2 separate regions of the Homo sapiens genome follow, and region 2 is linked to region 1. Evidence: fine-mapped expression QTL. A gene starts in region 1. The other region holds a variant in brackets. All regions are shown on one strand. Distances are between the middles of the regions. Region 1 holds the start of ODAD2 (outer dynein arm docking complex subunit 2). Region 2 overlaps ODAD2 (outer dynein arm docking complex subunit 2).

Evidence for each region. PIP is the estimated chance that this variant, and not a neighbour inherited with it, causes the effect.
Region 2: its variant is fine-mapped to the expression of ODAD2 in thyroid (GTEx, PIP above 0.99).

The regions. Positions count from the first base shown.
Region 1 is chr10:27,992,499-28,002,997 of GRCh38, reverse strand. It overlaps ODAD2 (outer dynein arm docking complex subunit 2), which reads left to right and starts at 3,919. Exons shown (of 20, transcript NM_018076.5): 1 at 3,919-4,004; 2 at 7,818-8,079. The coding sequence starts at 7,856. It overlaps LOC112268060 (a long non-coding RNA gene), which reads right to left. Exons shown (of 3, transcript XR_002957065.1): 2 at 8,606-8,689; 3 at 7,847-7,930. RefSeq lists an enhancer at 7,315-8,514.
Region 2 is chr10:27,814,221-27,824,719 of GRCh38, reverse strand. The region is part of intron 19 of ODAD2 (outer dynein arm docking complex subunit 2); the gene reads left to right. Among named protein-coding and RNA genes, the nearest start is that of MKX, 74 kb to the right of the region's middle. The variant C/G (reference allele first, on the strand shown) is at 4,299.

The sequences.
Region 1 (10,499 bases):
ATTCCACAGAGAGGCAATTCCGCCCTATAATGAGACTTACCCCCATTACGACAAAATATAAATGACTGTAATTCCCTGCAAACCTCAGGAGGTTTATTTCATCTGTCTTAGTCCTTTCCTGATTGAGGTACTGGATGCTTAAACCAACCTTGCCTCTTACTTTCTCCCTGGTTATGGCCTATAAATTCTTAGTCGGCTTCACTCTGACACAGATGAATGGGCGCTGGAAGCCTGCTGATCACATCTTTACATAATGCTATGTGTGACATTGTGTCCCCCTAAAATCGTATGCTGAAGTCCTAACCTCTAGTGTCTCAGAGTGCAACCGTACTGAACATAGGGTTTCTATAGAAGTAATCAAGTTAAAATGAGTTCATGAGGGTGAGTCCTGATCCAATATGACTGGTGTTCATAAAAAAAAGAGGAAATAAGCCAAGAGGAGTGTCTCACACCTATAATCCCAGCACTCTGGGAGGCTGAGGCAGGCAGATCACTTGAACCCAGGAGTTCAAGACCAGCCTGGGGAACATGGCGAGACCCCATCTCTACAAAAAAAAAAAAAAAAAGCCCACAAAAATTAGCTGAGTATGGTGGTGCATGCCTGTAGTCTCAACTACTTGGGAGGATGAGGCAGGAGGATCACTTGAGTCTGGGAGGTCGAGGCTACAGTGAGCCGTGATTGCACTATTGCACTCTAGCCTAGGTCCTGTCTCAAATTCAGAAATTTGTGTACAGAGACAAGCACACAGGGATAACATCATATGAATGTGAAAACAACCATCTACAAGCTGAGGAGAAAAGCCTGGAATCGATTCATTCCCCATAGCTCTCAGAAGGGATCAATCCTGCCAACACCTTGATCTTGGACTTCTAGCCTCCAGCACTGTGAGATAAGACATTTCTGGTATTTAAGCCGCCCCAGTCTGTGATACCTTGTTACAAAAGCCCTAGCAAATTAATGTGTGCAATCTGTGTCTGAACTCTCTGATACATGAGAGGAACAGATTTGCCCAAGCCAGGGTGGATGGTTTCATAAGAATCCCTGTAGATCGGCAGTCCCCAACATTTTTGGCACCAGGGACCAGTGTCATGGCCAACAATTTTTCCATGGATAGGGTGTGGGGGAGGGGATGGTTTCAGGATGATTCAAGCTCATTACATTTCTCGTGCACTGTATCTCTACTATTATTACATTGTAATATATAATGAAATAGTTATACAGCTCACCATAACGTGGAATCCGTGGGAGCCCTGAGCTTGTTTTCCTGCAACTAGACGGTCTCATCTGGGGGGGATGAGTGACAGGGACAGATCATCAGGCATTAGATTCCCATTAGGAGCTTGTAACCTAGATCCTTCGAATGCACAGTTCACAATAGGGTTCATGCTTCTATGAGAACCTAATGCCACTGCTGATCTGACAGAAGGTGTGGCGTGTGGGTGGGGTCCCTGCTGTAGATGACGTAATGTTGCGGAGGTGGACCAAAAACTATCAAGTTTTTCCCAGGAGCCTGTGGCAGATTTTCTCTAAAGTTTCAGTGGACAGCGCTGCACCATGTGCTTGCACTCTAGCCATGGGCAGGGCTGGTAAAGGCCTCTGGTACAGCAAACCCCGGGTGTGCCCTCAGTGATGAAGGCTCTTTCCAAGATCACGGCTACTTAGAATCCTCAGGCTGGTTCTATTAACCCTAAGAAAATGTGGGCCTTGCCTTTCTGGTGCTTGGTGAAGAGTGTCAGGAAGCAAGGCATCTTTGACTAGGCGATTCATGAATTTAGCTCCTTCTACGTGCCAGTCATCCTTCTAGATCTTAGGAGTACAGACTTGAAGGAGGCAGAAAAGCTCCCTATTTTCATAAAGCTTACCTTGTAGGGGTAGCAGATGGGCAACAAGGCAAAGACAAGTTATGGCCAGGCACAGTGGTTCATGGCTGTAATCCCAGTGCTTTCGGAGGCCATGGCTGGAGGATCACTTGAGCCCAGGAATCAGAGGCTGCAGTGAGCTATGCTTATGATTATGTCACTGCACTCTGCACTCCAGCCTGGGTGACAGAATGAGACCTCGTCTCAAAAAAAAAAAAAAGAAAAAAAAAAAACAAGTCATGATAAATCCTTCAGGGAGTGACTGGGCCCAGGTAGTGTTTCATCACGACAAGGAAAAATTGGAAAGAGGCGACTGGGACTTCTTCAGATTTAAATATTATTAAGTTATTTTTGCTTGGAAAATATCCGGTAAAATAAATTCACATTTTGGCATCAGATTAAGCAACTTGGCATGAATTTGGCAAACAACGACATAGTTGCTCAGATCTTGGTGGGTTCTGGCTTTTTCCAGCTTTGCAAACCAAGGTGAAATGTCCTGAACTTGGAAGATCTCTGGCTGGCATCCACATTGGACCCAGTAATGCTCCCTTATGTCATACAGCTGATTAAAATGTGCAGAGGAACTAAAGTACCCACAGAAGCTTCCTTGCTTCCAGGACTGGGACTACTCCAGGATCCTTCCGAAGGATGCCCTCTGCTCCTCACCAGGTTGTGACCTGCATTACCGCCACAGGTGTGATGCTGTTGTCTCAGACTGTAATCCACCCATTTTTAAAAGGGCTTCTCTGTATACCTATTAGCATAAGCCCCTTTCTCACTGGTTGCAAGTCTAAGCTTCTCTGCAGGTAGTATCTCCTTTAGGTGAAACTATTCCATTCCTAACAACTTTCGCACTTTCAAAAAGAGAAGAAAAGAACCCAAAACAGGCCAGGCATGGTGGCTCATGCCTGTAATCCTAGCACTTTGGGAGGCCGAGGTGGGTGGATCACTTGAGGTCAGGAGTTCAAGACCCACCTGGCCAACATGGTGAAACTTCGTCTCTACTAAAAGTACAAAAATTAGCCGGGCATGGCGGCGCATTCTTGTAATCCCAGCTACTCAGGAAGCTGAGGGGGGAGGATCTCTTGAACCCGGGAGGCAGAGGTTGCGGTGAGCCGAGATGGGAGGCAGAGGTTGCGGTGAGCCGAGATCGTGCCACTGCACTCCAGCCTGGGTGATAGAGCCAGACTTCGTCCCCCACCCTCCAAAAAACCCAAAACAAAGGACAAATATCTATACCTCATATCCCTACGTGTTTGCAGAAAGGTTCTGCTTTGAGCTGAATCCGTATAATATTATGACAGGTGATATCCTAACATCATTCCACATTTGCCTCTTTGGCATCCGGAAAAGAATCCAGTTTTAATTCCTAAACACCCCATCATCCTAAGTGCTCCGGCATTGGTCCTTAAACACCGTGTCCCCCCACCCCAAGATAGTGCATTCTTCCCCATCCCCCCCCACCTCAATATTCCCACTCCTTTATCCCTCACTGGTGTTCCAGTTGGGGCTCTTGCTGGTAGGGTGTCTAGAGGTGGGGTCAAAACCATCTTAATGGACAAAGGTAAAGGCCATTTAAAAAAAGAGATGGGGGACATGTTTTCATTTCACTCCGATCCTCTGCCCTATTGAAGAGCGCTTTCTGCTTTCCCGGTGAGTATCAGAGTATTCTACCATATTTGTTTTTTTGGAGAGAAACATGTAAGCCTCAAATATCCTAGGAGAAGCCCTATGCTATTTGGGGGTACTCAGTGAAGATTTCAGGTACATACAACGCACTTGTCTGGAAGCCTATGGAAAAATGTAAAAAGGGGTTTCTAAGGAATATTTTCTGCTTCCTTTCTGCTCCATTTTAAGTTTTCTGCTAACTTGCCGCCGACCCCGCAACTGCTCACGACCTCTGTCAAAGTCAACCTTTCCCACCGCGTGGAGTGAGTTAGGGTGCACACTCGGGAGTTGCATAAAAGTGTTTGAGAAAGGGAGATGCAAAGTTGAATAAAAGTGTTTCCCGGGAGGGGCCGAGCGGAAAGCAGCAGGTGGCCGGGGCGGGTGGAACCCAGCGCGGGCGCAGAGCGTCTCTGGCGCGGGCATACGGTGCAACGGGTCCGCGGGAATCTTGGATGCGCGGAGGTCCCGAGACCAGGGTAACGGACTGGGCTGCGGTCGCGGCCGGGTGAGGCTGGGAGCGGAAGGCGGCGGCGGCGGCGCCCGGGGGAGGGCACGGGCCCTGTAGGCCTCCCACAAGGGCGCCGGCGTGCGCGGCCGCAGGGCGCGCAGTGTTGACCCGCGTCCTAGCAACAGGCGGGCGCCGACTGCGGGGGGCAGGGTGCTGCAGGTGAGTGCGGCTGGGGGTCTCCACGCTCACCCCCGCAGGGGTTCTGCAGCCGCCCGCGTGGATCGGGAAACAGAGGCGGCTCTCTGGCCCCGCCGCTGCCGCTCTCGCCTGCTCCCCTTTCCCTCCCGGGGACCAAGACCCGCCCCCTTCCCTTCTCTCTCCCAGCCCCATCTCACTCCTTCCTCCCCGCGAGACCCTGCCTCGGCCCTAGGTTGGGGACCGTCTGCTCCTCAGTCCCTGCGCCCCTCTCTGCACTACCTCGGCCCCATCACCTCCCGGATCCGCTCTCCACTTCTCCCGCCGCTTCCCTGCCTCTCCTTCCCCCAGCCCGTCTTTCTCCTCCGCCCTTTGCAGCTCTGCCTCCCGCTCCCAGCGTGGTTTTCGCCGTCCCTTCCCTCCTCGTCCCCTTACCGAATCCATTCCTGGAAACTTAGGGTCTCAGCTCTGACGCCCCCTTCTTGTAACGAGTCTGGTGGGGGCCGTCATCCCACACTAGGCTTAGCTTTGGTTTTACTTAGGGCCCTGTTCATGTCATGTCTAAAAGTTCGATTTTCTGTCGGTCTTACTGAGTAACTTCTGCATTCTCAGAAAGCAGTGTATGCGCGGACTCCCCGTGGATGTTACCAACCACATTTCATAGATCTCAGAGCTGATGGCTGCCTTTCCGTAGCCCCCTAAAGAATTCGGTTGTGCTTCTGTTTAAGTGTTAACGATGTGATTACCGAATGGGTTTCATTTCACTAATGATGCTGGAAGCTTGAAATTGACCTTTAGAAAGAAAAACAATCTGTGGTATCTATTGGATAAAGAGAAAAATGAGTGCTAAGTGATTCCCAGTTTATGTAAACATCCCAGTTTATGTAAACACGTAACCAAAACTTTTTTCCTTTTAATCTTTAAACTTACTTTCTTTACTTCAAAGGTGTGTGCTGTGTATTTACATGGATTCATTTTAACTATGGTTCTTAAGCCAAAAGAGCTTGGCAATGGGCAGAAACCGGGGAGCAACTGGTCTTGATTTTAAAATCTTAGTTTTGAGTTATGCCGACCATTTTTGAACACCATTTATTTATTTATTTATTTTCTAATAACATTGATCTTGCCTTCTGGATTGTCATAGGCCACCCTGAGGTTTTCTTAAACTCACCAACCTTCTTGAATAAAACTTGTGCATTGCTACGGTTCACTAGACTTGGAAATACAATTTGAATAGATTCAAATGTTACATTTCTGTCAAAATTTATCTTGACGAAAATAACGATTTTGCATTTCTTAATTCTGTGTTAAGGGTCCTTCAAGAAGTTACTATATGGTATGTTGACTACCATAGCGTTACATAATCTATTTAATTTCGCATTTTTTCTTTAAAAATGTGCAAGAAGCAATCTTTATAAGATTACCAAAACAAATGTTATACTTAAGATTAAAGACAGACAGAACTTTCACCTAAGCCTTTCTGTATAAGATAAAGCTATTTGCACTTATTTCACACTATTTTACACTGATTTGCACTTATTTTACACAACAATGGGAAATTCAAGAGTCTCACACATACACATCAGAACATGTTTATGTGTTTAAATCTAAAGCATTTCTCATCGGTTAGCAATAGAAACAAAATGCTAGAATACTAAAACAAACACCCAGAACAAATTTGTGCACTAATTTCTGCACTTTATTTCATGACCACTTTGGTATATATGTCTGGATCAGTTGTTCTCCACCCTATCTGATCCAGTACTTGGTTTTTATAGCATATATGTTGTAAGGCTGCTTTGCTATCCTGAAATCAATATCATAGATTATAATCTTACATATTTAATATAGTTTTAAATATTGATAGTGTGCTAACTGTAAAATGAAAGAAAATAATTGTAAGAAAAGATTGGCATGTAAACGCTCAAGTACCACTACACTAGAATATATAGGGAAGTAGTCAGATGTCCAGCCTTACACAGAATGACTGTGAACACAGCAGCCCCAAATGCAGACTGATACAGATGTGCCATTGCAACTTAAATTTCTCAAATAACATTGCCATCAATGGTGTCATTTTCCAAAATGCTGAGCTCTTGGTAAAATTCCATGTAAAACAAAATATGTACAACCTTCTTTTCGTTTATGGTAGCTACAATTCTGGAAAATTCAGGGTGTAATAAAACTGTGACAAAATACTCTGCAATTTTTGCAAAGTGCAGAAAAATTCTAGGCTCAGGTAGTGCTTATCTGAAGTTTTTCACTTACTAGATGCCTGGAGGTTACAGCAGAATTCTTCCTTCTGAGGTACTATCCTGCACAGGATATTTTACATTGTCGGTCCTCAACACTAAAGGCCGATAATGCCCCCTTTCCTATCATGTTGATAACTAGACATCTCTATAATATTTCTATACTCTTTATCAGCAGGAAGTACTGCCCTGTTGCCATCCAGTGATCTCCTGTGATTGAATTTAATAGATAGTTCAAAGATTTAATACAGTACAGAATGTAAAATCTCCAAGTCTAATCTTTGTACTTTAAGCCTTTTTAATAATGATGGGAGTAAAAAGCCAATTTTATTCTATATTTAACCGTATAACCATTCTTCTAATATTCTGGAAGAAAGATTTTATCAATAAGTGCTATACAAAAGAGAAAAGAAACAAGTATAGATTATCTGCCAAAAAAGCATTAAATGTTCATTATGAAGTCAGAACGTGCTTTCTAACTTGGCTCTTATTTAACGTTACAGATTTTGTTACTTTTTAAAAGATCTTCTTTTACAGACTAATTTCTATTTAGCCAATGTGAAATTTGTCTCACTTGAATTGGTTTTAAATTTTACTGCTAGACTCTTCTGATAACTAATTTAGATAAAAAGGCTGAAAGAGTCTCACTTATTCCTACATCTCTCACATTAACTCTTAAGAAGGTTGTGAATTACAGTAAAATGTCATCTGGGCAGGATATACAGGCAGGGAAAATAGTATTTGGATTGTCCAGATATTCTGGTAATAGGATCAATGTGTCCTGTATCAATTTTTAGAAAAAAAATTATATTTCACAATACTGTTCTTATTCTATTTCTTTTTTAACTCAGAATGCACTTGGGGAAACCAGAGCTACCAGAATCATGTTCTTCAGTCATCATTGTGATGATGCAGATATTGTCACTGTAAGAAAGTCGGGATAACAGTATTCAGTTTAATAGTGTAATTCTAAACAATGTGTGTCCTGGCTGAAAGGAATGTTTGTCCCTGAAACTGCTGGCTCCCAACAGAGCTGTGAACAAAAGCCCTTAATATAAACCTCTTCCACTTCCTTTTTTTTCCACTCTTGGAGTTTTCTATTTGGGTTTTATGCCTATCTGTTTGAATCCTCTCTCTTAGGCCCTAGGGAAATTAGAAAGAAGTTATTAATTTCAGGGCAAATACCGGAAATTTCTTAAATACTAGTCAGTTTTATCTAGTGCTGGTTTACTACTTCATTGAACTGAAGAGCAATTAGATAATGTTAAAAGAATCTTCCAAGATTAATAAGCAGAATGTGGGATGGGGAGTACTAGTTTAAAGTCTTGAGAATGAAAAATGTTCCAAGGAAAAGGTGGACGCTGTTGTCTCTTTCTCTTTCTGCTCTGATGTAGTGCGTGTGCTAAGCTCAGGTCTGAGCACGGTGGATCCCATGGGTGTGGCTCTGAGGAAATTGACGCAGTGGACTGCTGCCGGACATGGAACTGGAATCCTCGAAATCACCCCTCTAAATGAAGCGATATTGAAAGAAATTATTGTGTTTGTGGAGAGTTTTATCTATAAACATCCTCAAGAGGCAAAATTTGTTTTTGTGGAACCACTTGAATGGAACACAAGTTTGGCGCCCTCAGCATTTGAATCAGGTTATGTTGTCAGGTAAGCCAGTTACTTGCTTCTAGGATTTGATATCTTCGTTGTACATAGTATTATCAATTGGTTCTAGGTTTGGGGGCAAGTCACCTAACCTCTCTGAACCTCAGAAGCCCTCTAAACCAGGGAATGAAAACCAGAGACACACAGGTGAAGTCTGAGGATATTCAGCTTGGCCAACACAGTATCTTTCTAAGTTTTAAATTTTTCAAATTAAACAAAATTTTAATTTTTGTGGGTAAATTTCTTTTAACAGGGCATCCGTTATCCAGGTCACTACACTGCCAACATCCATTGCTGCTTTATGCCTGGCCTTTCCACCCATATGTGGAGATATATATACACATATATATACTTTTTACAGATGAGGTCTCACTATGTTGCCCAGGGTGGTCTCAAATTCCTGGCCTCAAGTGATCCTCCTGCCTCAGCCTTCTACAATGCTAGGGTTACAGGCATGAGCCACCACACCAGGTCATCCATATTCTTCTGAATTTTATTTCTATAAATGTATGGGGTACTTCCGTATTACCTGCCAGATGCCAGGAGCCATTGGTTTCGTGACCTCTGATGTAGATGAAATCTCTTCTGGTATTTAAATTGATCAATTCCTGGGCTAGAAGCAGGAGGCGGCGGGGAGGGGTGATGAATGATGAATTTTGATTTTGCCCAATATAAGGGAGAGAATTCTTAAGAATTACTGGTGTCCTCAGATTAGAGCCTTTCAAATCTGAGATGAAAAAAAATTTACTTCTGTCTCAAACAGTGAACTCTCAATCTATCTCATTCAAACATGGCTAAAATATATATATACACACACATACGCATAAATTATGTGAACAAATTAAATATAATTGTATAAGAATGTATTAGTTCATTAAGCATTATAATTATACAATAAGTAAGCTAACAAATACACACACACACACACACACACACACACACACACATATATATATATATATTTGCCAGCCTCAGTTTATTTTGCACCTTAGGCATTCTATTTTCTACCACCTTGTTCTTCTTTGTTCTGGATATGAACTTTTAAAGTCTGATCATATAAAAACAGTTCCCTAGCTAGCCAAAGCTTCCTGTAGATGCCTTTTCCCTTTTCTCCCTTTGGGATTATTTGTGAGAATAAAGTCAGAATTTCATTTTTAGAACTGCAGCAAAACCATTCTTAAACTGTATTTCAAAAGCTCTTTAATTCTTCTATTGGTCAGCCTTCTCTCTGAGTTGTTTGAAGTCATATTTATTTATTTATTTTTTTTTCTGGAGACAGAGTCTCGCTCTTTTGCCCAGGCTGGAGTGCAGTGGTGTAATCTTGGTTCACTGCAAGTTCCACCTCTCTGGTTCAAGCAATTCTCCTGCCTCAGCCTCCTAAGTAGCTCGGAATATAGGCATCCGCCACCACGCCTGGCTAATTTTTTGTATTTTAGTAGAGACGGGGTTTCCCCATGTTGCCCAGGCTGGTCTTGAACTCCTGAGCTCAGGCAACCCGCCTGCCTCAGCCTCCCAAAGTGTTAGAATTACAGGTGTGAACCACCACGCCCGGCCTGAAATCTTATTTTTCTAATGGTGCATTTTATTTCTAACTGTGCCAGTGGTAACTTTCTCCAGAAGTTGTCATTTCTGTATTGTTCAGCTTTTTTCCTAAGCTTTGAAATATGATCTCCTACGTAAAACAAATTAAAAACATATTAACTACTTGGCTGATCATGGTGGCTCACACCTGTAATCCCAACGTTTTGAAAGGCCGAGGTGGGCAGATCACCAGAGATCAGGAGTTCAAGACCAGCCTGGCCAACATGGTGAAATCCTGTCTCTACTGAAAATACAGAAATTAGCCGGGCATGGTGGCACGTTCTGTAATCTCAGCTACTAGGGAGGCTGAGGCAGGAGAATTGCTTGAATCTGGGAGGTGGAGGTTGCAGTGAGCCGAGATTGCACCACAGAACTCCAGCCTGGGTGACAGAGAAACTCCATCTCAAAAAAAATTAATATTTTTTTATAAAAATGCATTTAAAGCAGATGACAGAAAAGAATATCATGATTGTTTTGCCTTTGTACAAATTTTGTGCTCCAAGCACAAACGTGATCACATCTGACCCCTAGTTAGGTGGGCTGTGACACACACCTCTCAAATCTATCACTATTTCCCCCTATTCTTGTCCAGATTCTTTTTGCCTTATTTCCATTCTTATATCTCAGCACACAGTTATTTATGTATTTATTTAAGACAGGGTCTGGCTCTGTTGCCCAGGCTGGACTGCAGTGGAGTGATCATAGCTCACTGCAGCTCAAACTCCTGGGCTCCATGGATCCTCCCACCTCAGCCCCTCAAGCAGCTAGGACTATAGGCACATACTACTATGCCTGGTCAATTTTTCTATTTTTTTGTAGAGACAGGATCTCACCATGTTGCT
Region 2 (10,499 bases), 180 kb after region 1:
AGTTTATATCAAGAGGGCAATTTTCTTACAGTCTGGAGGAAACCTATGGATTGTTTCAAATAAAGAGATCTATGGATCGTTCTAGATAATTTAATTCATGTCTTTGCTTACCTGTGGGGTTTTAGTCCATTTTCTGCTGCTATAACAGAATATAGACTGGGTAATTTATGAGGAAAAAAAATTATTTCTCACAGTTCTAGAGGCTGGGAAGTTCAAGAGCATGGCACCAGCATCTGTCAAGGGTCATTCCATGGCAGAAGGGCAGTAGGTGGAAGCAAGTACATGAGACAGAGAGCAGATGGGGGCCAAACTTACCCATTTATTAGGAGCCCAACCCCCCTGTAACAGCATTAATCCGTTCATAAGGGCAGAGCCCTCAGGTCTTATTCACTTCTTAAAGGCCCCACTTCTTAATACTGTTACAATGTCAATTAAGTTTCAGCATGAGTTTAGAAGGGGACAAAATTCAATCCATAGCAGGATTTGATGTTCTCCTAGACTAGAGACTGATACAAGAGAAAACAGTAATTTGAATAAGAACTTATTGAACTATTTTTTTTTTTTTTTTTTTTTTTTTTTTTGAGACGGAGTCTCGCTGTCGCCCAGGCTGGAGTGCAGTGGCGCAATCTCGGCTCACTGCAGGCTCCGCCCCCTGGGGTTCACGCCATTCTCCTGCCTCAGCCTCCCGAGTAGCTGGGACTACAGGCGCCCGCCACCTCGCCCGGCTAATTTTTTGTATTTTTAGTAGAGACGGGGTTTCACCGTGTTAGCCAGGATGGTCTCGATCTCCTGACCTCGTGATCCGCCCGCCTCGGCCTCCCAAAGTGCTGGGATTACAGGCGTGAGCCACCGCGCCCGGCCTGAACTATTTTTATGAACATAGAGATGTGTTAGTTCTAATGCCTTGACTTTTGTTTTTGACTATCTAACGGGACACCATGAACCTTATGTTAATGTATTAATTTTCAATGTAACTAGATTAAAATTGCTTATTTGGATCAGTCCAACAGGAACTGTAGCAGAGAAAATGAGCTAACAGCAAATATTAATGCCTCTGGTCAACAACAGTCTCCAAGTCAATATAACAAGAGTAATAATAATAACAACTATAATTTAGGGGCACATAGCATGAGCACTTTACATTACGTTTCCCATTTAATCCCATATCTATCTTATTAGGAAAGTACTATTAAAAATCCTAATTTTACTGATAAGAAAACTAAGGTTTAGAGAGAGTTACCTCAGGTCACATACAGTTAGGAAGATGTGAAGTCAGGATTCAAATTCAGACTGTCTGAACTCAAAGCATAAACTCATAGCCACTTTACTGCATAATCTATGGGAATATTTTTTTCCAGAGAATTGCCATCTACACTTTGATCTAACCAATAGCAAAATGCAATTCTAAACAATCTTATCCACATAGATTTTTTTAATCCATCCTTATCCTATTATTTCTTTAGCATTCTTATGTAGGAAGCCCCTATGTGTGCCAATATTCTTTATATTTAATAGGAATAAAAATCCAAGAGCAACTTGAGGCCATTCCAAATGACACCATGAGCTTCTGCCCTGGGCAGGCAGAAACTTATCACTTCCTTTTCCTCTGATATAGGGTGCTGAGCAATGTCCCACAATTCCCTGACCCAGCCAGTCATCAAGTCATTCTCCATTTCTAGCATTTTTAGAAGAAAGTCAATAGGGCTCTCTCTATTATATATCCCATTTCTACTCCCAATACTATAGACCCAATGTGCGAGTCTCCTGTCTGTCTGTTTGGGCATTAAAGCTCTCTAGTGGAAAGTTCGTGAAGAAACATGGAAGAAAACCCAGAGGATAAACTTAGGAATGTCCACACAGAAAGAGCACTGGATCCAATAAGCAGATCCAAGTTTTGCAGACATGGACCTCAGATCACACACACACCTATCACCTTGAGGAGGACAGACACCAATAAAGGCAAGCCCCTTGACTCCCTTCACTGACCAAATAGAACCAAAGGTTTTGCTCCAGCCAGCAAATGTTAAATATGTTTTGAGGCCCCCGGCTTTGGTGAGCTGTCATGTGAAATGAATTACCGAGGCTCAGAGTCTGGATGTGCAAGAAACTGCAGTGGAGCCTCTGTTGGAAGAGCAGCAGAACCCCAGCCAACTCAAATAGTTGGGAAGCCATTCCATAGGCGGACACAGTCCAAAGGCATTTCTTGTTACTGGGTTGTGCATGAGTGCTACAACGTCACTGCAATGCCTTGTAAACAGGAGAATGTCAGAAGGGTTCCCAGTTCAAATCAGCTCTGGGCACTTAAGATCTTTTGGGAAAACCCCTAAGCCTGGTAGGCATTCCAGAGCTCATCCAGCTCTAATTAAAACTCCTGATTCTAGGCTGTGTTCACCCAAACAATGTCAAGTCAAACCACAAGAAAATCTGTTATCACTCAAATTGGTACATACTTTTCATACAACTGAAATATTATATAAAATCATAAACTGTTAAATGGAAATGTAAAAATTGAATGCAGACCCAATTCCCATGCTACCTTTGTCACACCTTCCAGGAGATGTGAACTGTGGGTCACAGCTGCATGCCGAGGGCATGAACCTTAAGATCAAAGCCTTTTACACCAGAGGAAGCATTGGTGTTAACCCAATCTACAAACCAGTCCTTGTGCCTGTCCCCACGTTCTTGTTCACTCCAGTGTTGTAAAAAGTTATTTGTTTGAATGATGTTTTAAAGTGCTCTGTGCAGTTAAGTTTTCAAAAGCGTGGGGGCTAGTTTTCCTTCAGTGTATATATGAAACTCCCAATAAATTTAAAGTCTTTAGGTGTGTTTTAGGGGAGGCGGAGGATTAAAAAGAGAAAAGTTTGAAAGGAACAAGGACTTCAAAAAGGTAAGCCCCTTAGAATATTAAAACATGTCTTTATAGTTGGAAAGAAAGTCTATAGATAAAAAAATAGATACCAAAAAAGTGTATACCAATTTCATAATCACTTGTACCAAATTTGTAGTTCACTTTCCTGAGAAAACTATTCCTTTTATGTAATTATGACAAAGAGATTAGAAACTGCCCTCACCTTGCTCCGTGTGTTAGTGATTTGAAAACACGAACTGCACTTTCATTTATATTAGCTCCACATCAAATTCAGGATTTTGTACCAACTTTCTGTTGTGCGAGTATTTGCTAGTTTTAAAGAAACTAGTGCCTTAGTTTAAAGAAATTAGTGCCTTAGTTTGCTTGTGAGGCTCGTAGGAAAATGAAAACATATTCCTGAGCCCAATTCAAAACCAAGACACATATATGCTACATATTTTTCAGATGGTGGTTTGGGACAGTAACATAACCTTATTCAATTTGTAAAACACCTTTAGATGCCTAGCCCCTCTGGGTGTATAACAAAGCAATGAGTAACAGTTATTGAAAATAAAGTAAAACTCGGGAAAAACAATACAGTTAGTTAGCGGCAAAACTCAAAGAGGGTCTTGGGGGTACTTCTCAAATATTCATACCCGGAGCACACAGAAAATTCTAGACTTCCAATTCTACACCCTTGATTGAGACTGTACTTAGCTAAGTAAAATGGACAGAGCAGGCTAAATTCAGCAGTAAAGAATAAATCATAGTTCTTCAAAATAGTGGAATGCTGGCTGGGCACGGTGGCTCACGCCTATAATCCCAGCAATTTGGGAGGCTGAGGTGGGCAGATCACTTAAGATCAGGAATTTGAAACCAGCCTGACCAACATGGTAAAACCCTGTCTCTACTAAAAATGCAAAATTAGCCGGTGTGGTGGCGCATGCCTGTAATCTTAGCTACTCAGAGGCTGAGGCAGGAGAATGGCTTGAATCCGGGAGTCAGAGGTTGCAGTGAGCTGAGATCACACCATTACACTCTAGCCTGGGCAACAGGAGGAAAACTCCATCAAAAAAAAAAAAAAAAAAAAAAAAGTTGCTGGGCTTCATTGGTTTAATTGTTAAGCTAAAATTTAACCAACCAGCATATGGGATATAGAATGAAGCCTTGTGGTTAATGTGAGAAACTTAAGGCAAAATAAATTCCCCAACAAAGAGTAATCCTCTTGGTACACTCAGGACTAGAAGTTACTCAGGTAAAGAAAAATTTAATTTATAGAATAGAGTCATAAAAAGGGTACCTGCTTAGATTAAAAGTTTTCTTCTAACGTAAGTCTTGTGAACACACAGGAGATGCTGTTTCCAGCAACCCTTATCTGGTTGACTCCGGGAATAGCCAACACACAGCAGCTTTCTGTATGCCAAACATTATGACTCATATGCTTGACACT[C/G]ACAGTCCATTGGTTTATGCAGTGGGAAATTATGTAACTGGATCAAGAGTTTGGGAATAAATACAACCGACTCTTAGAAAGCCCAAGCAGAGACTGCAGAACAATGACCAGGTCTGAGGGAGGATGGGCGAAACGCAGGCTAGATTTTGACAGGCATCAGGTCAAGGGTTTCCTTTCCAAGAGAGCCGTACAGGGTGGCAGCAGCCAGTGGCATGTGGAGCCTGGGCCATTGGTGTCCATGGAGGTCAGCCAGCGACAAGGCAGGGCCTGGAGCAGGTGCTGACAGAAGCTAGACTGACCTCTGGGCCAAAATTCCCTCTTCCTTCCAAACTAACCAGGCCAGGCCTCCAGGAAATAACACCAGAACCAGACTTCTGAACTGGCAAAAGAATCACCATGAGCGTGAGTAGCATTCATGGAACGCTTGCTTTGTATTGGGCACTGGACTATGCGATTCAAATGCATAACCCATATGAAGCCAGGCTGCCTCTTGGTCCAGTCCTGATCTAAAAATGCAGTCAGAGAAACAAAAGCCTAGCAACCCAATAGCACTTGAAAGTATTTTTTTCTTTCCTTTTTTTTTTTTTTAAAGAGATAAGGTCTCTTAAATCTAGATGCATTGTGCTGATCACTCCTTCCTAGAAAAATCACTATCAAACCATAGTCAAGGGTATGGGTTTTGAGGTCACAGCAATGGCGCAATCATAGCTCACTGCAGCCTTGAAGAGCTGGGCTCAAGCCATCCTCCCGTCTCAGCCTCTCAGACCCACCCAGCTACCTAGACTACAGGCGCACGTGACCACACCTATGTCTGGTTAACTTTTTTTTTTTTTTTTTTTTTTTTTTTAAGAGACAGGGTCTCACTATGTTGCCCAAGATGGTCTTGAACTTCTGGCTTCAAGCCATCCTCCTGCCTTGGCCTCCCAATGCACTGGGATTACAGGCATCCACCCGGCCTGAAAGTAATTTGAATCCTAGTTTTACTCTCTCGAAGATAGAGAGTACAATCATGCACTATTAAGCTTTAAGTCCTTAATCTTTCATAGTATATCTCTCTCACCCCAGAGTTGCCTTTAAAATAATCTTTCTACTCCAAACCCCTCAAACTCTTCAAAACAGGGTGAAGTTCTCTTTCCCCCTTTTTCATTCCTTCTATTTCTGTTGCTCTTTTCTGTCCCATAAGGAGTCCTCTGCCCTTGCCAGTGTAAATTCCCCCGACCTGTGCTCCTCCACTCTTCCCTCCCACACACTGCAGACTTGGGTTTGCAGAAGGCTGGGGGAATCATCAGACAAAATAGGAAGGGGAAAGATCAAAGGACGTAAAGAAAGGAAGAGACTGTGAATACAGGTGTTCAAACATCTATTAAAGATGTATGTTTAATTCATCTTTGCAGTGACCCCCAGAGGTATGTGATCCCTTTACACATATGAGAAGGTTGGGTTAAGAGGTTCAGTGATGTGCCCAGTGACTGGGAGAGTCAGAGTACAGATCCAAGATGCTGTGACCTCAAAACCCATACCCTTGACTATGGTTTGATAGTGATTTTTCTAGGAAGGAGTGAACAGTATAAGGCATCTAGATTCCTTCTCAGGTAGTTGAGCTATGGACTAGGACTTTATTTCACTTCTTTCCAGATTTAAAAAGCAACAATGACCAGAACTATGAGCGGGGAGGCCAAGGACTGGAGCAGAAGCGAGGCGGGTGGCCATGAGAGGTAGATATTAGGTGGAGTTGCTGTAGCTAGCAATCTATTCTCCTCCTATTACCTAAACAACAAATATAGGGCAATTGGAGACTAGATTTTTTTCTAAATCTCATTTGCGTATGGAAATCAAGCTCTTAGTATAGGATTAGGTCCTCTAATCCAGGGCCCAGAAACACCTACAGGTAACTGGCATTATTCATTGTGATGACCTGGCTGTAATAACAAAATTCATAAAGTAATAATTATTGTCTATTAAAGTGATTGACTGTTGGGAGAGTTTTTCTGCTATATTTTGTATAACAATGGAGTCAAGACAGGGACTCATGAACCCTTATGAATCATCTACTTGGGAGAAGGAGTGAGAAAATAACTCAGGTAAAAGGGAAATTAATAACTTTAAAATCCTATAATCGAGGGGTTATACAATTATGTAATCAAAGGATCAAGTCAATCCCTTGATTATATAATTTACCAAGAAATTAGTTGGAACGTTTTGTTTTGATATAAGAAATAATTTAAAGATCAGAAAGCAGAAGTGAGGAAAAAACAGGCCCATTGGGCATAGAGACATATGAATATCAGGATCCATTGGCATCCAGGCTGGCAGCGCTCACATTCAATTATTTGGTAGTGATGTGGAAGAGTGAAATCTCCAGGCTTACAGTTGGCACTCCATACTCCAGGATAACAAAGGTTACCATGGTGGATGTGGGCTACGAGGAGGTCAGTAAAAGCCATGTGAGTATGAAAAATGGTGAATGGTGCGAAGTATGTATCTAGAAGAAATCGTCTAAATTTCATAAAGTTGTATCTGCTTTAAAGACTGTCTGTAAACAGCCATTTGATCCAGCAATCCCCCTACTGGATATATACCTAAAGGGAAAGAAATCACGGTGTCAAAAACATACCTGCACTTGTATGTGTATTGCGGCACTATTCACAATAGCAAAGATATGGAATCAACCTAAGTGCCCATTCATAGAGTATTGGATTTTTAAAATGTGGTACATATATGCCATAGAATGCCTACTCAGTCATAAAAAAGAATGAATCATGTCTTTTGCAGCAACATAAATGGAACTGGAGGCCCTTATCCTAAGTGAAATCACTCAGAAACAGAAAGTCAAAACTGCATGTTCTCACTTATTAGTGAGAGCTAAACAAGGGGTACACATGGAATAATAGACATTGGAGACCCCAAAAGATGGGAAATGGGGAGGGGGAATGAGGGTTAAAAAATTACCTATTGGGTGCAGTGTTCACTATATGGGTGGTGGGTGCATTAAAAGCCCAGACTTCACCACTGTGCAATATATGCATGTAAGAAATTTGCACTTGTACCCTCGAAATATATCCAAAATTTTTGAAAAGAATTTTAACTGTCTATACAGTAAAGTGAGGTATAAACAAAGAGATCAATAAAAATTCTGAACCATAGATCATGAGTTAAAAGTTGTGAGCTAGGAAAGGGATTTAAGTGTGAATAGCTATACAAAGACATGTAAGCCATGTGTTAGGATAACCAAAGAGAGTGGCTACTCTGTTCTTCCTGCTCGTTATTTTTTACATTATTTCCTCTTCCTACAGTGAGAGAGGGAGAATGAGAATATAAAAGTGTGTATGCATGCATGCATACATCTGTGTGTATGTATAAAACTGCATAACAGGCCGGGCACGGTGGCTCATGCCTGTAATCCAAGCACTTTTGGAGGCCGAGACGGGTGGATCACCTGAGGTCAGGAATTAGAGATCAGCCTGGCCAACATGGCAAAACCCCGTCTCTACTAAAAATACAAAAATTAGCTGGGTGTGGTGCCACACGCCTGTAATCCCAGCTACTCAGGAGGCTGAGGCAGGAGAATCACTTGAACCCCAGGGGACGGAGGTTGCAGTGAGCCAAGATGACACCACTTCACTCCAGCCTGGGCAAAAGAGCGAGACTTGTCTAAACAAACAAACAAACAAAAAACTGCATAACAATCTTATACTGACCTACATTCCCATGGTCATACCATGGATCTTGTCAATACTCAAAGGAACTTCATCTGTAAAATCTTAAACTCCAAATATCTCATTCTCAGATGAGAATGTCTTATTTTCACCCTTTTCCTATGCTTTGGTCCCACCTAAACTGTTTTCCTGCATTGTTGAGGCCTCACTTCCTAATTCTCCCAGTGATCAGTAGCCTCCTGTTTTCACTTCCCTTCCAGCCCAGCACAGACCATATGGCTGTTCAAATGAATCACAGTCCTATAATCTATTTCCTCTGTGTTATGCCTAGGATATTGAACGATGCTGGAGAAAAGGAATGATACAAAACTCCCAAGGCATGAGCCCCTCCAAACTTCCCTGTTTCCCTCATACAGAACAGAATCTTCCTTTCTCTTGAATCTCAGAAGATTGATCCTGTCTTATTTCTTCCTGTTTCTCAAAAACATTGTATCTTATTAGTGAATTTCACAATTTAGGCAATTACTCTAGATACAGTATGAATAGTTCATCAGACAGGGACAAGACAGGGTGCAGGGACAGTGGGAAGTAGGCTTTACTGGGGTGAATGACAATAGCAATAAAGAGAAGTGAATGACTTTGAAATATGTGTAGGCAGCTGAATCACAAGAATATGATAATCAGTTGGATGCAGCATAGGGGAGATGAGGGTGGGAGTGAGTGTGAGGCACGCAGATTTCCGTCTTGAACAACTAAGTGATAACATCTATTATGGATACAGGAAAATACTTGGAAAGAGATTCATGTTTATATAGAAAAAATAAAAAATTTCATTTGGAATCTATTAAGCTTGAGGTGGCTGTGAGACTTCCAAGTGGAGATGGCTAAGAAGTGTTGGATATGAAGTGTTCCATTCCAAAGAGGTTTCTGGGGTGGAGATAGAAATTTAGAAGATGGTTCCATATGAATGCCATTTGAATTCAGGTAGTGAAAGATGTCATCTAGGGAGGGGGAACAGAATGAAAACAGAAGGGGAATTTGTTCTGATGAACTCTAACAATTTTTGTTTGGGGGAAGCAGACAGAGCCATGGATGAAGATTGAGAAGATGAGAATGAATGGATACGAGGAAAAGCAGGGGAGTACGGTAGAAGAAGCCAGTGGCAGAGAAGGAGGAAGTGGCCAATTATATCAAATGCTGTTAAGGGGTCAAATAAGATGAAAACTCCTAAGTGTCCACTACTCTTAGCCACATGGAAGGAAGTTACTGACATCCTCTGAGAGGGTTATTTCAGAGGAGAGCTGAAGGCAGACAGCAGCCTGGAGTCAGTGGGATGGAATTTAAGACTGGAGATAGGAATTCCAGACAACTCTTTAAAGAAATTTGGCTATGAAGGGAAGAAAATGGGGTCAAAGTGGTGTCTTTTTGTTTTGTTTTATTTTTAATGTGTAAGACGTGTTTAAATGATAATGGAATCATTAGAAAGGAAGAGGTGAAAGCTAAAGTAGAAGAGAAACAGGGAGTATTTGGTAGTAAAATGTCCTAAGAAGAAGAATGAATGAAGAATACAAGTGGATGGTGGGCCTTGGATAGGAGAGAGCCATTGTAACTGGAAGGTAGGATAAAAAGATCTGCTAAGACGCTGGCATGGTTGCCGTTTTAGGTAGAGTTGTTGCTGTCTAATGGCTTCGATCGAGTTTATGAAGGAGACCTTATTGGTCATCTTCTGGAAATGGGGGCTAAAAAGAAGAACTGAAGATTGAAGAAGAAGGAAGATTTAAAATAGGCATTGGAAAGGGAAAGTAACCTAATGAGAGGGACACAAATTTTGATTGCTGGGCAGTGAATGAGAATCCAGTTGAGGTTGAACTGATAGAGGATGGATTTGCCTTGTTGTTGACATATGCCTCCCGCAGGACTCAGTTATTGGTGAAGGCACAGGGAAGAACAGAGTTGGATTTATGGACAGTTATGGTTTTCCTGGAGGGATGTTGTAAGGAGGTTTAAGAAACTGATAAGAGAATGATTCAAAAGACGGACTATGCAATCTAAGCTGGTTATGGAGGAAGCAAAGACGGAAGATGGTTAAAGGAAAAGTATGTGAGCCCATGGACAAGAGATCATGATGAGAACAAACAAGTAAGATGGTTGCATAGCCAAATCGTGGGAGGAGACATTGTGGTCAGAGAGTTTGGAGGTCAGACTGTTGAAAGTGATGAAAAATCAGGGCCCAGATGTAACTCTGAAGGTGGAAGGCTGAAGTGTGAAGATCAGTGACAATGGCAGGCCAAGGAACTGAGAGGGCAGACATCCTTCAGTGACCCAATTTGAACAAGATATTCTCATATACAACCTTCTAAATGTTTTGCATTGTTCCTTTCTTATTTAATCTCATTGAGACAGCCGGGTGGGAAGGGGTCCCCAGAGACTTCAAATGGCCTGCGCACTGGGAGGAATGTGCACTGGGGTGGAGCCACAGAAGTTCATGCTGTTTGCAGCAGGCAGGAGCCTGACCCCTCCTCTTCCTGGGTGATAGCTGGGATTC